Linked DNA regions of Homo sapiens: region 2 is linked to region 1. Evidence: fine-mapped expression QTL. Tissue or cell type: whole blood. Region 1 holds a variant in brackets; the other region holds the start of a gene. All regions are shown on one strand. Distances are between the middles of the regions.

Evidence for each region. PIP is the estimated chance that this variant, and not a neighbour inherited with it, causes the effect.
Region 2: it holds the start of EXOC3L2, and the variant in region 1 is fine-mapped to the expression of EXOC3L2 in whole blood (INTERVAL, PIP 0.99).

The regions. Positions count from the first base shown.
Region 1 is chr19:45,211,610-45,214,289 of GRCh38, reverse strand. EXOC3L2 (exocyst complex component 3 like 2) reads left to right here. Exons shown (of 12, transcript NM_001382422.1): 12 at 933-1,920. The coding sequence ends at 1,221. It also overlaps a transcript of BLOC1S3 not described here. Among named protein-coding and RNA genes, the nearest start is that of EXOC3L2, 32 kb to the left of the region's middle. The variant T/C (reference allele first, on the strand shown) is at 1,572.
Region 2 is chr19:45,244,070-45,246,749 of GRCh38, reverse strand. It overlaps EXOC3L2 (exocyst complex component 3 like 2), which reads left to right and starts at 1,343. Exons shown (of 12, transcript NM_001382422.1): 1 at 1,343-1,409. RefSeq lists an enhancer at 653-1,649.

The sequences.
Region 1 (2,680 bases):
AGTGAGGCATGAGCGGGTTTCAGTTTCAGCACTGAGGGTGGGGGTCCTGGAATTGATTCAGGGTGGTCAGTTCTGATTCTGGGGGATAAGGTCATGTCCTTGGGAAGGCACATATTCCTGGAGTCCCATGGGGTCCCAAGAAGTCCCAGTATTCTTGCTGATGTGGAGTTTCTGAACTTGAATATTGGATCATGAGTCAGAACTTGAATCTGTAGCTAAGTTTAAGAGTTTGCTAGCTGGGTTGGGTTTAGGGGGTTGAGCTTGAGATTAGGAGGTACCTAGGGCTGAGGATTTAGGGGGAGTGGGGTACAAGGTTTCTTTCTTTTTTTTACTTTTGAAATGGAGTCTCGCTGTGTCACCCAGGCTGGACTGCAGTGGCGCGATCTCAGCTCACTGCAACCTCTGCCTCCCAGGTTTAAGGGATTCTCTTGCCTCAGACTCCTGAGTAGCTAGGATTACAAGCGCCTGCCACCACACCCAGCTTTTTTTTTTTTTTAATGTATTTTTAGTAGAGAGAGGGTTTCGCCATGTTGGCCAGGCTGGTCTCGAACTCCTGACCTCAGGTGATCCGCCTGCCTTGGCCCCCCAAAGTGCTGGGATTACAGGCATGAGCCACGGCACCCAGCTGAGAAGGTGAATTTTAATCACGAGCTGAGGCTTGGGGTGAAAAGGAAGATCCCAGGGCTGGTTCTGGGGTTGGTTGTAAGGGGGATTTGGAGATGGTTGGAAGTGAAGTTCTGGAGGGAGCTGGTATGAGGTGAGGGCCTGGGCAAGGGAGCTGATTGGAGGGAAGGCTCTGGAGGGGACACAGAGGCCCCAGAACTCAGGCAATTTCTGGGATAGGTGAGGGGGTCAGGTGGGGTCCACGGCTGGGTTGGGTGTGTGTCTAGAGCTGGGGATCTGCATGCACCTGTCTGTTCCTCTCCCCACAGGCAGAAGCACGTGGCAGCCCTCCTCGACATCCGTGGCCTGCGCAACACAGCCGCCCGCCAGGAGATCCTGGCCGTGGCCCGGGACCTGGAACTCTCTGAGGAGGGAGCCCTGTCACCCCCTCGGGACCGTGCCTTCTTTGCAGACATCCCTGTGCCCCGCCCATCTTTCTGTCTCAGCCTCCCTCTCTTCCTGGGCCGCCTCCCCCTCTCCCGGCTGGCCAGGCCCAGTTTGGCCTGTCTGCCTCGGCCCCGGCCTCCGTCTCTAGCGCGACCTCGGGCCCAGCGCTGAGGGTCACCCAACCGCCGGCCTTAGTGACCCCATCTATGCTGCTGACAAGCCAACCTCCCGTACGGCGCCCCTCCTGACTCCCTGCCTGGGACCACACACCCCTGGGATAGAAAGACCCTTAGATGTCTTTTCACCCAACCCCAAACTCCCTGTACAGAAGGGAAACAAACGCCAGGCACGGTGGCTCATGCCTGTAATCCCAACACTTTGGGAGGCTGAGGCCGGAGGATTGCTTGAGCCCAGGAGTTCAAGACCAGCCTGGGCAACATAGTGAGACCTGCCCCCTATCTCTACAAAAAATAAAAAATTAGCTGGGCACGGTGGTGTGTGCCTGTAGTCCCAGCTACTGG[T/C]GAGGCTGAGGCTGGAGGATCACTGGAGTTCGAGGCTGCAGTGAGCTATGACTGTGCCACTGCACTCCAGCCTGGTCAACAAAGCAAGACCCTTTCTCAAAAAAAAAAAAAAAAAAAAAAGGTAGGGGGAAACAGAGGCCAAAGAGACAAAGCATTTTCCCAAGGCCATGAAGCCTGTTCCCAGCACCTCCCCTCCTGCCATAGCCCAGAGTGGTGAGTGTCGTTCTGGAAGTCTCTACAGAAATATCCCAGCTCCCCCGCCCCTTTCCCTCACCTCAAGGTCTGGCCCCAATCCAATGTATTAAGGAACGTTCGATACTTAGAATAAAGAGGTTTCTATTTAACACAAGGAAGGGCTGAGTCCTGAGTGTGTTGTGGGGAGGAAGGACCGGGGAAGCAGGGCCCCGGGCCAGTGGCTTCTCACACACCCAAGGCCGGGCTGGGCTCCAGCTCCTGGGCAGGGTAGTGGAGGTAGAGGGAGGCTGCATGTGCTGGGAGCGACGCCAACCCATGTACACCTCCTGGCTGTGTGGCTCTGAGGCCAGGCCTTCGCCACTCTGAGCCAGGGTCCCTCGTCTGGTCAATCTCAAAGTGCCTGTCCATTCCTGGTCCTGGTGGCTCCATCTTGGCACACCCTCCCCATCCATCCTTAGCCGGGAAGCTGCCCTGTCAGGAGAGGAAGGAGGTTGGGGGCAGGGCTGGCGGCATCCAGGGCGCCCTCCTGGGTTGACGCAGGAAAGTCTCGGGGTGGGAAAATTTCCAGCCTCTCACCCCCAGCCCCGCCGGATCCTAGTCCCCACGGAGACCTTGAGGTCACCTCCCTGCTGACTCCTGCCCCTCCGGCCTGGGCTGGACAGCCCGTGATGGATGTTTCCTGACTTGTGGGATTTTTTGTGTGTATGTGGTTTTTTTTTTTTTCCCTGAGAAGTCAGAAAGAGGAGGCAGCCAGGGGTTAGCACTGGGGCTGGGTTTGGAACTTCACGCATGCACATTTGAACTTGGGGAGGTAGAGACGAGGGACTCTCGGAGCCCAAGGCTGTGCTTCCTGACCCGAGGCAGGAAGCTGCCCCTCTCTGGGCTGAGGTTCCTGTGCCTTTCTGGGGGAATTG
Region 2 (2,680 bases), 32 kb before region 1:
AATTAAAAAAATTTTTTTTTTTGTAGAGACGGGGTCTTGCTATATTATCAGGCTGGTCTTGATCTCCTGGGCTCAAGCAATCCCCCTGCCTTGGCTCCCAAAGTGCTGGAATTACAGGCATGAGCCACCACACATGGCCCTAGCCTTTTAAAGTAACCCTGACTCTCATACCCAACCCCACCCAGCACCAGCTCCAGCCCCAGCCCTCACTTCACTTGGCATCCCAACTCTAGCAGGAAGTCCATCTCCAAACCCACCTCCAACCCTCAGCTTCATTTAAATTCATTTAAATCTTGACTACTGAGGGCCAGGCACGCAGCTAGGCTTATAAAGATGAACAGGATCAACAAAGTGAGCTTTGCTGAGTTTATCTGCAAGGAATCCAGTTGCATCTGATAATTTCAGATTGTAGAAGGTGCAATAAAGAAATTGACAGGCTGGGCACAGTGGCTTACGCCTGTAATCCCAGCACTTTGGGAAGCCGAGGCAGGAGGATGGCTTGAGGCCAGGAGTTTGAGACCAGCCTGGAGAACCTAATGAGACCCGTGTCTCTACAAAAAATACAAAAATTAGCTGGGCATGGTGGTGCATGCCTGTAGTCCCAGCTACTCAGGAAGCTGAGGTGGGAGGATCTCTTGAGTCTGGGAGATCCAGGCTGCAGTAAGCTATTGTTACGCCACTGCACTCCAGCCTGGGCAACAGAGCAAGACTCTGTCTCAGGAAAAAAAAAAAGAAAAATAAATTGACAAAGCAGAGTGACGACTCTGTGAGACGGGACAGTGGAGAACAGAGGAAGAGACTGTGGGGCTGGAACTGGGATGATGAAAAGGAGGGCCTCATGCAGAGACCTGGGTACAGGGGCTTCTAGACAAAGAGAACCACAATTCCAAAGCCATGTCCAGTGCCCTCCTCCATAGGTCCCCCTCCCCAGCCCCTGGGCCCAGCAAAACTTCCCTCCTGGTCTTCAGCCCGTGGCAGGGAACTCTAGAGAGATGCGTGCCTGCCCCCCGGTTCTCATTCTAAGGCCTCGGGGCTTGCCCATGCTGGAGAGCAGCTCTGGGCTGGCGTCCAGCTTGGGGTGTCTCCCCGGGGCGCCCAGGATGGTGTTGTCACCTTGGGAGGCGTGAAGAGCATGCAGGAGTGGGCGGATTCCGGCCTGGAGCGGGGGTGAGGGTGGGGGCCCAGCTGTGGGCCTCGGCCTTCCCAGCCCAACCGCAGCCTGGCCTAAAAGGGCAGACAGATAATGAGTCCTTCCCGCCCCTGGCCCCAGAGAGGGAGGGGTTTCCTGACAGGAAATTGTCCTCCTCCGAGCACCCCCCCAACTCAGATCCAAGCTCCCAGCAGTCCTGGCTGAAGTAGCCTGGGGACAGGACAGCAGCGGGAACAGAAGGACGGGCAGGAGGACAGAGGTGAGTGTGCTGGGGACAGGGGGAAGGGGTCCCCCTTCCCCAGGGCAACTGGGAAAACAGTTGCCCTTAGTTGCACTGGACCAGAGCTGATGAGAACCTGTACCTTGAACCCAGCAGAGGCTGGGGGCAAAGAGAGAATCTGGGGCCTGACTCCAGAGGGGTGCTGGCGAGAAGGCAGAAAGGAGATGAAAATGAGAGGAGGGTGCAGGGGAGAATTTGAGGACTCGCGGGGTCCACAAAGGGTGCAAGGGAGCATTAGAAACCTTGGTGCCACCAAAGGAGAATAGAGATGAGATGACATTGGGTCGAATGTCCTGCGAGTCTGGGCGGGAAGACTGAGGCCAGGAAGGATCGGGTATTTGTTCTATCCCAAGAGATGGGGTCTCGGAGATGGGAGACAGGGACCAGGTAGGGATTGAGATCAAGCAGGAGAGACCGAGATCAGGTTGGGATTGGAGATGTGGATGAGCTTGCAGTGGTCTGGGCTGATGACAGGATTGTGTTTGGGGTCAAGGACTAGATTGGGGTTGCACTGGTTGGGGTTGGGCTTGGGGACATGCCATATGGAAAGACCGTTCTCTAATACAGATGCTGAGCGTTGGAGGTGATGGATTCCGCAAACCGAGGTCAGGGCCGCTGCAGAAGGTTAGGGACTCCGGGGAAAAGGCTGGCAGTGAGGAAGAGGAGGAGGGGCTCAAAGAGGGAAGCTCTGGTGGCCAAGACATCCTGCGGGCCTGAGAGGCTGGGGGCTTGAGGGATGCCTCGGAAGTGAGTCAGGGGCTGGGCACTGGGAGGCAGACAGAGGGTTGGAGGGGGCAGGATGTCAGCACCAGTTTGCAGAGGCGGGTGTTGGAGCCAGGAAGGGGAAAGACGTCGGAGACAGTTTTGGGAAAATGTTGCAGCCAGGTTTGGGGATGTTGGATCCAGTTTGGAGGCGATATTGAAGCCAGGTGGGGGAAAGTCAGATGTAGTCCGGGCAAGGTTGACTTCAATTGGAGGGAAATTCGAGCCTGAAATTTTGAGAGGAAGATGGAGACAGTTATGGGGTGGAGGGGGGATGATGGAGCCATTTTGGGATGAGGCATGTGGATGCCAGTTCAGAGGATGAAAGAGAAATCAAGGCTGGGTGTGGTGGCTCATGACTGTAATCCCAGCACTTTGGGAGGCTGGGGCAGGTGGATCGCTTGAACTCAGGAGTTGACCAACCTGGGCAACAGGGCGAAACCTCATCTCTACTAAAAATACAAAAATTAGCCAGGTGTGGTGACTTG